Linked DNA regions of Homo sapiens. The protein of the gene in region 3 interacts with the protein of the main gene of each other region in a biochemical or structural test. Each region holds a gene or a part of one and is shown on either strand. Other genes may lie near its edges.

Evidence for each region.
Region 1: of the proteins of PHLPP1 (region 3) and CSNK1A1, one has a biochemical effect on the other in vitro, tested with the Homo sapiens proteins (one study listed by BioGRID).
Region 2: of the proteins of PHLPP1 (region 3) and PRKCB, one has a biochemical effect on the other in vitro, tested with the Homo sapiens proteins (one study listed by IntAct).

Annotation. Positions count from the first base shown.
Region 1 is NC_000005.10:149,509,835-149,513,487, forward strand, and holds part of CSNK1A1 (casein kinase I isoform alpha), read right to left. Parts: intron 3,376-3,653; coding exon 3,236-3,375; intron 2,039-3,235; coding exon 1,960-2,038; intron 120-1,959; coding exon 45-119; intron 1-44.
Region 2 is NC_000016.10:24,090,853-24,094,505, forward strand, and holds part of PRKCB (protein kinase C beta type), read left to right. Parts: intron 1-1,938; coding exon 1,939-2,095; intron 2,096-3,310; coding exon 3,311-3,445; intron 3,446-3,653. UniProt on the Homo sapiens protein: Calcium-activated, phospholipid- and diacylglycerol (DAG)-dependent serine/threonine-protein kinase involved in various cellular processes such as regulation of the B-cell receptor (BCR) signalosome, oxidative stress-induced apoptosis, androgen receptor-dependent transcription regulation, insulin signaling and endothelial cells proliferation.
Region 3 is NC_000018.10:62,970,409-62,974,061, reverse strand, and holds part of PHLPP1 (PH domain leucine-rich repeat-containing protein phosphatase 1), read right to left. Parts: intron 1,549-3,653; coding exon 1,354-1,548; intron 1-1,353. UniProt on the Homo sapiens protein: Protein phosphatase involved in regulation of Akt and PKC signaling.

The DNA.
Region 1 (3,653 bases), on a different chromosome or scaffold from region 3:
CTGGCTTCATTTATATTTTTTTAATATTCATCATGCATACTTACCTTACATAAAACTTCAACAGGCGTGGACATCTTCTTTTCACTAATCTTTTCATATTTTTGTTTCTTTGTTGCAGCCTGTGGAAAAGAATAAAATAAAAAAGATATACTCAGTGCTACTGAGAAGAACCATGGTAGTTTAACGCACTAGACATATAAACATATACCTGTGAGATTCAAGAGAAATTTTAACCCAGAATTTAAAAAATCAAAGTATAATACATCTAAAAAAAATTTTTCCCAAACTGTTAACTTCTGATGTAAGTTTCTTCTCTAAGAATTTAATTTTAGCTATAGGGAAAGGGTGAGTCTAATAGGAATATATGGATATTAGATTTAAGTAAAAATGGCTGGGGCCAAAATTGAAAAGCATTTTCTTTCTTTCTATATATTTTTTTAAGGAGATGGGGTCTCACTATGTTGCCCAGGCTGGAGTGCAGTAGCCATTCACAGGCTCAGCAGTAATTCCCTGTGGCCTCCAACTCCTGGCCTCAAGCAATCCTCCTGATTCAGCCTATCAAGTAGCTGGGACTACAGGTGTGCATCATCATACCCAGCTGAAAAGCATTTTCTTTCCTTTTTCCTTTTCTTTGTTTTTTTGTTTGTTTGTTTGTTTTTTTGAGACAAGGTCTCCCTCGGTTGCCCAGGCTGGAGTGCAGTGGCTCGATTATAGCTCGCTGTAGCCTCGAACTCCTGGGCTCAAAGCAATCCTCCCGGCTCAGCCTCCTGAGTAATTGGGGCTACAGGCATGTGACACTACACCCTGCTATTTTTTTTTTTTAAAGTAGAGGTGAGGTCTTGCCATACTGACCAGGCTGGTCTTGAACTCCTGGGCTCAAGTGATCCGCCTGGCTGGGCCTCCCAAAGTGTTGAAGATTATAGGCATGAGCCACCATGCTCAGCCTGAAAAGCATTTTCTTAACCCATGTTCAACACAAGGGCAAAGGCATCAGATTAATACAAAAAAATTTGTTCATCAATTAGTGACATTAATAAATGGAGTTAACTGTATAAGTCACAATATTTTTCTAAACTAAAAATACTCATATTAGATAAAGCTACCCACCCAAGGACTGAGCACTACAACTAGCTCACAGCCACTCAATAAATACAGGTATTCCTTCAAAGAACTGGTAAGGTACCAAAATAGCCATTAAAATTTAGGACACACCAACAGTGGTGACTCACACCTGTAATCCCAGTTCTTTGGGATGCTGAAGCAGGAGAATCACTTGAGCCCAAGAGTTTGAGACCAGTCTGGGCAACACAGTGAGGCACTGTCTCTACAAAAAATAATTTAAAAATTAGCTGGGCATGGTGGCATGTTCCTGTAGTCCCAGCTACAGGTAGGAGGCTGAGATAGGAGGACTGCTTGAGCCCAGGAGGTTCAGGCTGCAGTGAGCCAGGCATTCCGGCTTGGGCAACAGAGCAAGACCATTCCCCATGCCCCCACCCCCACCCAAAATTAGGATACGGTGATTTATCATTAACATACACTCACAAAAGTAACAGTAAACTCCTAGCTAATAGAAACAAAATGTTAGGACATGTATTGCTGGATAAACAGGTCTTGCTGTACATAAAAACATACATTTTCAACATAATGGCAACACATCAAAATGAGAAAGTCTCCACCTTTCTTAGTCCATGCCCACTTCCATCTAGATAGAGCTAGTGGCTACCAGTGGGTACCAGCTTACTGTCTCTTAGAGGACACTGTTCTTCAGCTGAACTAAGTTCTTACTAAAATGATCTGGTTTCATTTTCCCAGATAAAAGGTAAAAAGTAAATTAAGGTTAATTCTTTATATCTCAGAAAAATCTCAGACTTAGAAGGGACCTTAAATCTTATCTTCTCCAATATATATTTTTATTCTAAAAAAGAGAGAGAAAAATCTGATAATGTGAGTCTGGTTTACCTTTAGCCCTTGCCATGGCAGGCTGGTTCTATTAAAATACATCAAAACATATCCTAATGATTCCATGTCATCTCGGCGACTAGAAAAGAGAACGTAATTTTATAAACTGGAACTATTATTATGAAAAAACATATGAAAGAAAGTCAAGTACCCAGAAGAAATGTTCCCAAATGAGGAGGGAACACTATTTGGTGTCTTACGCAAGAAGCTACTTATTTAAGGTGATTTTAAAAAGTTCATGTGTTACCTACCTCTAAACAAAACTTTTTCCATGGAATCCAAAATCTGACAAACAACTGTCTTACAATTTAATTTTAAAAGAACAGAAACGATTTGGCTAAACAACCCTCTAAATGAGCTTAATGAACCAAGCAGGATGACATTTCTATGTTTTGCAGAAACTCATTAAAAAAAAACTTCAGAAGTACTGAAAAGGAGTTACAACTTAAAACTAATTGAACATCTATATGAATGTATTCATGCATACATATCTATATACACATACATACAAATATATATTTAGATATATATATATTTAAGGATAGGTAATGCCTTGGCGTACAGAAAAAGTGACATTACAGTTTAACCTAGATCATTCAGATATTCATGGATATTTCTTAAGCCTGAAATTCTTGGTATGAGGTTCTTTAACCTGGAGGCATATCATTGTTTTTTCTACTTATTACTTCTATGCTAGTTTTAAGGAGCAAAAAGTGACTGTAAAAGATGAAAGGAACTCGAAACTCTAGAACTCATGTGAAGAAATAGGAAGAGAGCAGAGACTGTTACTTTTTTTACTTTAAACTAGATCCTATTAATTTATATATTTGAGTGAAGTATAACAGGAGATGGTCCATCAACCCACTTTTGGTTTATTAGGACACTGATAACATTTTCCTTTTAAAAATAAATAATGCATTCTTCCCAAACTCAGCGTGAATTACTAAAGTATAAAAAGCCCCAAATAGCTCTAAAAATATATGTACTATCTTCAGCTGCAAAAAGAAACGTCAACATTGCACTTATGCTTCTAACTTTCTATCACGCAGTATTTTCCCCCCAAGAGACAACCTTCAACAACAACAAAAAATCCAGAAGACCTCATTTAACGGTCTTCTCTACACTGGTTAAAGCAGCAGGTAAAATGATTAATAAGCATCCTTCAAATCCTCAGCCAAGAAACATCCTTAGACATTGTAAGAAACTAAAATATTTCAAAAACCCATTGATGGCTTCTGCTATGGCTATGATAAGCACATTCCATTTTCGAACTTACCTCTGCTCAATACCAAGATGTGCATTGATGCTAGCATATCGGGCAGTGCCAGTGAGGTTTTTATCTTCTCTGTATGGTATGTGTTGCCTTGTCCTGTTGTCTCTGTACTTTTTGGCCAAACCAAAATCAATAAGGAATAACTTTAAAAGAGAAATACAGAAACATTAGGTTTCCAACCTTGTTCAATTAAACTGCGTCTTATTCATTAAATGGTATCTATTCTATGCATTCAAATATATCAAAATAAAGTATCCTAAGTATTAATAGAACAGATAATGAACAGACTTAACACCCCCCCATAAGCTTTTACTAGTCTTCATCAATAAATCAAGTTAAAAAAAAAAAGTCTAGTAGTTTATCCTTGTCGTTTGCAGATTTCACAGGCCCATTTCATTACATACTCAGGAACCTGTCTTTA
Region 2 (3,653 bases), on a different chromosome or scaffold from region 3:
TGCAGGAAATGAGGGGGTGCTTTCTCTCCTACTTTCCAATATTCTTTCTTCTAATCTGTTTTTCTTGTTATCTTGAGTTTACAAAATTTCTGGTTTTATTTATGCTGTGGATATTTTTCCAGCCTTTTCCCTATGGGCTGTCTGGGTGCAGGTTATGGGTGATACATGGATAATAGGTGCATCTTGGTTTAGAGGGTAACTCTTTATTTCTTACTGCACTTATGGAACACGAGAAAAAAAAGTATTAAATAATGGCTATGGTAATGGATATCTTTGTCTTATTCCTTACTTTAATGGAATTGCATTTATCATGAACCATGGTGCTGTTATTTCAGATAGCCTTTATCCTGTTAAAATTCTCTGCTGTTTCTAGATAACTACAATGATCTTATGGTTTTCTTCTTTGATCTATAAATATGATGAATATATTGAAAATAGATTTCCTAAGATTGAACCATCTTTGCATTCCTGATAGGAGTCATTATGTATTCACCTTTTAGCAGATAGTTAGAGTCGATTTGGATTGAATGTATTACTGTGGATTGTTCTACTGTAAGTGAGATGATTGACATTGTATCCTTAAGAGCTGTGCAATTCTCATTTTCTAGTCTGCTTCCATTGACTACCTGCATTACTGGTTTCTGAATTGATTCCTAATTAACTACTTCCTGTTTCTCCAAGCTGATGATTTAGTCTCCCTCATCCTTTCTATAGCCAGTTGCATCTTCACTGCTGATTCCCTGCCTCCTTTTCTCCTGTAAGTTCATCTTTTTTTTTTGACGGAGTCTCACTCTGTCGCCCAGGCTGGAGTGCAGTGGCATGATCTTGGCTCACTGCAAGCTCTGCCTCCTGGGTTCATGCCATTCTCCTGCCTGGGCCTCCCAAGTAGGTGGGACCACAGGCACCTGCCACCATGCCTGGCTAATTTTTTTGTATTGTTAGTAGAGACAGGGTTTCACCATGTTAGCCTTATAGCCTCTTTACCTGGGTGTTCTGGAGTCAGGGTGGAGCTGAGCTCTAATGCTGCTGACATTGTTCCAGCCTTCTCTCTATGGGCTGTCTGGGTGCTGGTTATGGGTGATACATGGATAATAGGTGTACCTTGGTTTAGAGGGTAATTCTTCCTTTCTTTAGCTTTTTCTTTTTGAATGGAGGTAAAATTAACGTAACATAAAATTAACCATTAACTGTTTTTAAACGTACAATTCAGTGACATTTATAGAATATTCACAGTGTTGGACAACCATCATCTCTATCTAGTTCTCAGAAATTTTCATCACCTCTAAAAGAAACCCTGTACTCATTAAGCAGTCACTCCCCATTTCCCTTTCCCTCCAGCCTCTGGCAACTATTAATAGTAGTCTACTTTCTGTCTCTATGGATTTACCTGTTTGGGATGTTTCATGTAAATGGAATCATACAATATGTGACCTTTTGTGTTGGGGTACACAAATGTTCATAGCAGCAGTATTCACAACAGCCAAAAAGTGGAAACAACCCAACTATGCATCAACTGCTGAATGGATAAACAAAATGTGGGATATCTATACAATGGAATATTATTCAGTCATGCAAAAAAATGAAGTGCTGATACATGCTATAATGTGGTGAACTTTGAAAACGTTATGCTAAATGAAAGAAGCCAGCCTTTCCTGTGGGCTTTGTGGAAAATAAGCTTAGAAAACTTACAGTTAATCTTGGTATGGGAAGAGCAGTGTAAAAGTCAGAAATCCATTTTTAACCAACACAGACCAGAGTTGACATCTTATCAGCCCATCTCATTTTGTGCACTGCTTCAGCTATGGATGTTAATAAAATTAAATTTCTCACTAAACAAGTGTGATGCCAAAGAACCTTCCACAAGTTCTGCAGCTGTCACTGCTTGGTGCTTAAACATGTTGGACAGTATTAATGCAAAAACTGCTTTTTCTTTTTCAGTAAGAGATGCTAAAAACCTTGTACCTATGGACCCCAATGGCCTGTCAGATCCCTACGTAAAACTGAAACTGATTCCCGATCCCAAAAGTGAGAGCAAACAGAAGACCAAAACCATCAAATGCTCCCTCAACCCTGAGTGGAATGAGACATTTAGATTGTAAGTGGAAATGACTGCAGTGAGCATGGGTGGTGGAGGTTGGGTTATGTGCCACCTGAAATCAGGGAGTTCCTCCTCCCTTAGCTCCTGTTTCCTTCCTTCCCTACCTCCCTCCTTTTCTGTCTTCTCCATCCCTCACTCCTATCTTTCCCTCCCTTCTTTTCCATCTGCAATTTTGTATTGTGAGCCAAGAAAAAAAATTAGAGCTATTTTTTTAATAGAGATGAGAATGCCTGTGGTGTGGGGGAGTGGGTAGGACAGGAAATGGTGTGATGTGTTGCTAAGTGAAGGCAAGTTGTGGGAGAAATGATGGGGCTCAGCAAATAGGGGAACATAACCTACAGGGTGTGGTGACAGCCTCTCTAGAGTTGGGTTTATGGATGATGCTTGGCCTGCAGCCTTCTGGGACATCTCCACCAGCCTCCCTTGAGGGTCTTCCCTGGCCAGGGCTCCAAGAATCTGGGAGTCTCTTTCTTGTACATCTAGGCATCAGGAGTTGGTTATAACAGCCAATTCACTGAGCATATATGATGTGTGACAAACACTGGGTTAAGCGATCCGACTTCATCGGCTCATTTTATTCCCAATGTAGCAATAGGGCTTATAGAGGTTAAAGAGTATGCCCAAAGTCCCATAGCAAATATGGGGTGGAGTGGGATTCAGCTTCTGGCAGTCTGACTTTAGCGGTCATACTTTTTTAGCCACCAGCTAGAAGCACAGTTCCTTGTCCTGTCTCCTCTTCCCTCTCTCAGGGCAAAGCTGGGCCCCTTCTCAGCCTCAGTCAAGGACATGTCTCAGAACAGACAATTTCCCCAGGATTTTTCTCCATGCATTTCCTCAGCCTCATTCTCAACCCACCTGTGTGCAGATATACACATGTACACACCCAATTATGCAATTGATATCTGTATTTCTTATAGGCAATAGGAATTCCTGAATATCCTGAACCCTATTAAGACATAAGATAACAAAAGTAGTTAGAACTGTTCTTGTCATAGCCAGTCTAAGACCTCTGCCTGTTTAAGCCACAGGCTGTCAAACAGAAAAAGCTCTCACTCCCTGGAGAGCTAGCCTGGGATGGAAACTGAATATGTTTCTTTCAGCAGCTTGTAATCTTTAAAACTTTCTACCTCCAGGTCTTGTCCTCTTGTACATTTATTCTGCTTGAGAAATTACTACAACCTCCACTGATGTCTTTTCTTTTTCTCTATGCAGTCAGCTGAAAGAATCGGACAAAGACAGAAGACTGTCAGTAGAGATTTGGGATTGGGATTTGACCAGCAGGAATGACTTCATGGGATCTTTGTCCTTTGGGATTTCTGAACTTCAGAAAGCCAGTGTTGATGGCTGGTAAGTAAGATTTTGCCTTGAAAGCTACCATACAGCTTGCTCCATCAAACGCGGGGTCAAGTATGTTTTCCTTTTTCTCCAAAAATTGAAATACTAAAACAGAGTCCCAAAGTGAAGTCTGGTTGATTGGATCTGCCTTGCAGATATGTTTTGTTTGGTCCTTGTACTAAAAACAAAAAAGAAAGAGGCCAGGCCTCGTGTCTGACAC
Region 3 (3,653 bases):
ATGTGTTTGTGCTGTGGTCTGTATGCACATGTGTATGTGTGTGCATATGATACATGCTTGCTGTTTTTCTAGAACAAAAGGGTGGTAAAAACAGGAAAGCTGATGTGCCTGCTAGTTACAACATCCTTTGAAGGGAGTCTCACAACCTGAGGTCAGGTCCTGGCTGCACTACCTATTAGCCCGTAGGCACTGTGCTTCACCTCACTGTACATCACTTTCAGTAACATTACCCAGCTAACTGGTAACAATTTATGACACATAAGGTAATTTAGAACAATGACTGGTACATATTAAGGGCTTGCTGGATATTAGCCATTATTGTTCAGTTGCTAATTGTATATGCTCACTGAGAATCTGAAAGTCAGGGGTGAGTGTAGCAGCAAGAACCACCCCAGGCTTGCCTCCACCAAGCTCTCTGAGAGGAACCATTTGTGATGCAGGTATCACTGTAAAGGCTGCTCTGAACACTCCTCCCCAGACACCACTTCTACCCCTCTAACAAAGCTACTTGCTCTGGCAGAATATCAAGGGAGAGAAAGAGCAGATAAGGATAAAACACCATGACTGCTCTCATGACCTCAAATACCAGTACATTCATCACTCCTGGGTCCCACATGAGTGAGTCTGCAGCACAATACTTATAGACAGGCAATTCCATTATTACCTAGAAAGCCATGAAGGTGGTAAGAATAAACAATTCTCTGAATGAAGGAATCCTCATTCCTCTAAGAGTTACAAACAATATTCCACAATTTCTACAGCAACCTAAAGCTCTGCTGCTGGTGGCAACTCCAGGCTATGGCCTAGGATTCTGCCAGTAACACTGTCTTGAACATTTAATAAAGGAGAAAACAAAATATAAAGAATGATTTAACTCTTGGGCTAAAATCTGACCATCTTGATTTCACAAAGGTTTGCACTATCTCAAACCAGTGATAGTATTTCATAAGGGCCAAGAAACTAGGATAGAAACGGTCCATTTCAAAGAGAGGTCCCCACAACAGAAAGTCTAAAAAGCCCCTACAGCTCACATGATTTGGGAGGAGAAATGGCATTGCAAACAATCTGATGAAAATCTGCAATCAACACAGGCCAGTGAGGTCCAGTTCTCAGAGAAACTAATTCCTTGTCATTGTCTGAGCCTTCTACAAAGTTGTCTGAACATCAGTATGTCTCAAACCGGAGCACCATTCCTGATGCCTGGGCAACACCAAACTTGCCTGAATGCATCTTGGTACTCATAGTCAAAAAACATGGCTTGGAGACCATTGGGCACCTGCTTTTCTAAACAGAGGATAAACACTCAAAGAGCAAGAAAACACACAGCAGGTAAGCAGGAACTCTGAGTTTTACCTTTGCATGACAATGAATGTATTGACCATGTATTCTTCTTCGTTTTTTGTTTTTTGCAGCTCTTCAGCCAAAATGTCACTCATAGTGCACTGGAGAAGGTAGGGCACCTCCACATTCCGGTCTCCGTCAAACACACCATACAGGGCTTCGCGGTTGTCACAGAAGTTATTCACCGACAGGGCTGCGACACACAACCTGCAAGGCAACCACACTTCTGTGCTGAGTCCACTCATCCTCCTGCTCCAGGCCCAGCCCAGTGCTTATTTCAAGATTTTCCTAACTCAGTTTTGTCTCTTTCTTCATGACTCCAGACAGATTAAGGGCAGGTAAACTGACTCCAGCTAATTTCCAACAGCCAATTTTGATAAGCAGAGAAGGATGAGCACAAATTATGCTTCACACATGCCTTCCTACATGCTTCTCTTCTGATGAGTTTATTTTTAAATGTCAGTGACAGAAGGGGAAAAAGAGGCATGGGAAATAAGAGAAGATTATGAATCCATATCTACACATACATTCAATAAGCAGTTATTAACCACAATCTCCACATCCAGCCAAAATAGAAAACTAAAACACTGGGAAAAATAGACGAAACCTATATGAAAAGCATGTACAAATACAGAAAAAGCCTCAAATGACTTTTAAAAAATTATTTTTATTTTTATTTTTTTTTGAGACAGGGTCTCCCTCTATCACCTAGGCTGCAGTGCAGTAGTGTGATCTCGGCTCACTGCAGTCTCCACTTCTAGGGCTCAAGCGATTCTCCCACCTCAGCCTCCTGAGTAGCTAGGACTACAGGAGTATGCCACCATGCCCAGCTAATTTTGTATTTTTAGTAGAGATGGGATTTCACCATGTTGGCCAGGCTGGTCTCGAACTCCTGAGCTTAAGCAATCTGCCAGCCTCAGCCTCCCAAAGTGCTGGGATTACAGGTGTGAGCCACTATGTCCAGCCTTCAAATGACCTTTTTAAAAGGCAGGAAAAACAAACAAACAAACCCCAACTGGACAATAAGAGCACAGGTCAGTAATCCTGGAGAGAGCCTGCTTCCCGCCCAGCTTCCTCCTGGGGAAGTGTCCAGGCTGCAGCACAGGGAGGAAGACCCAGGTGGAGGCTGTGGTCTCCGTGCATTGAGGAGATGGAGCTGGGGGCTGAAGGAGGACAAGGTGGCCAGAGTCCACAGTCAGTGCACTGGAGGAGGATAGTGGTTCCCGGCAAATGTGGAAAGTTTGGAGACTGTCTCCACTCCAAACTCAAAAGAATCAAACTGTTTCCAAGCAACTGTGTCCCAGAAACTGTCCAAAATGAAACAGAGAGGAAAAAAAAAAGACTGGGAAAAAAAAAAAATAAGGCCAGGACCTTAGTGAGTGGTGGGATAACTTCAAACAGCCTACTATACTATAGGGAGTTGGAGTCTTCGAAAGAAGAGACAGATAACACTTTTGAGGAGTTGATGGCTGAAAACATTTCCAATATGAAGAAAATTATAAAACTACAGATACTGCAAGCAAGACAAACATGAAGAAGACTTAACTGAGACACATCAAAATCAAATTGCTAGAAACCAGGAACAAAGGCGGGAGGTAGAGCAGGGGAAACCAGGACGTGCCCAACAGCAGGCTTCTCCCTGGAAACCTGGTAGGAGACAGTGGAGCAACGTCTTGAACGTACCAACGGAAAACAACTAGAAAACAACCTAGATTTCTAAGCCAGTACAAACAGCTCTGAAAAGTTAAGGGGAAATAAAGACATTTCCAGATGCACAAATAAAAGCATTTACCACCAGCAGGATGGCACTAAAGAAATGGAAAAGGAAATCCTTGAGGCACAAGAAAATGACACTAGATGGAAATCCGGAACTGTACAAAAGAATGAAGCACAACGATAATGACAGCCAGGTGAGTGAACAGAAACATTTCCTCATTTTTTGTTTCATTTTTTTTTGAGATGGAGTCTCACTCTGTCACACAGGCTGGAGTGCAGTGGTGTGATCTTGGTTCACTGCAATCTCTGCCTCCCGGGTTCAAGTGGTTCTCCTCCCTCAGCCTCCTGAGTAGCTGGGATTACAGGCACCCGCCACCACGCCCAGCTAATTTTTGTATTTTCTGTAGAGACAGCATTTCACCATCTTGGCCAGGTTGGTCTCATACTCCTGATCTCGAGCGATCCGCCCGCCTCGGCCTCTCAAAGTGCTGGGATTACAGGCATGAGCCACCATGCCCAGCCTCATTTTCTTATTTTAAAAATCACCTTAGAACAGTGATTCTTAATAGAATATTCAATAATATTCTAATGGGTAT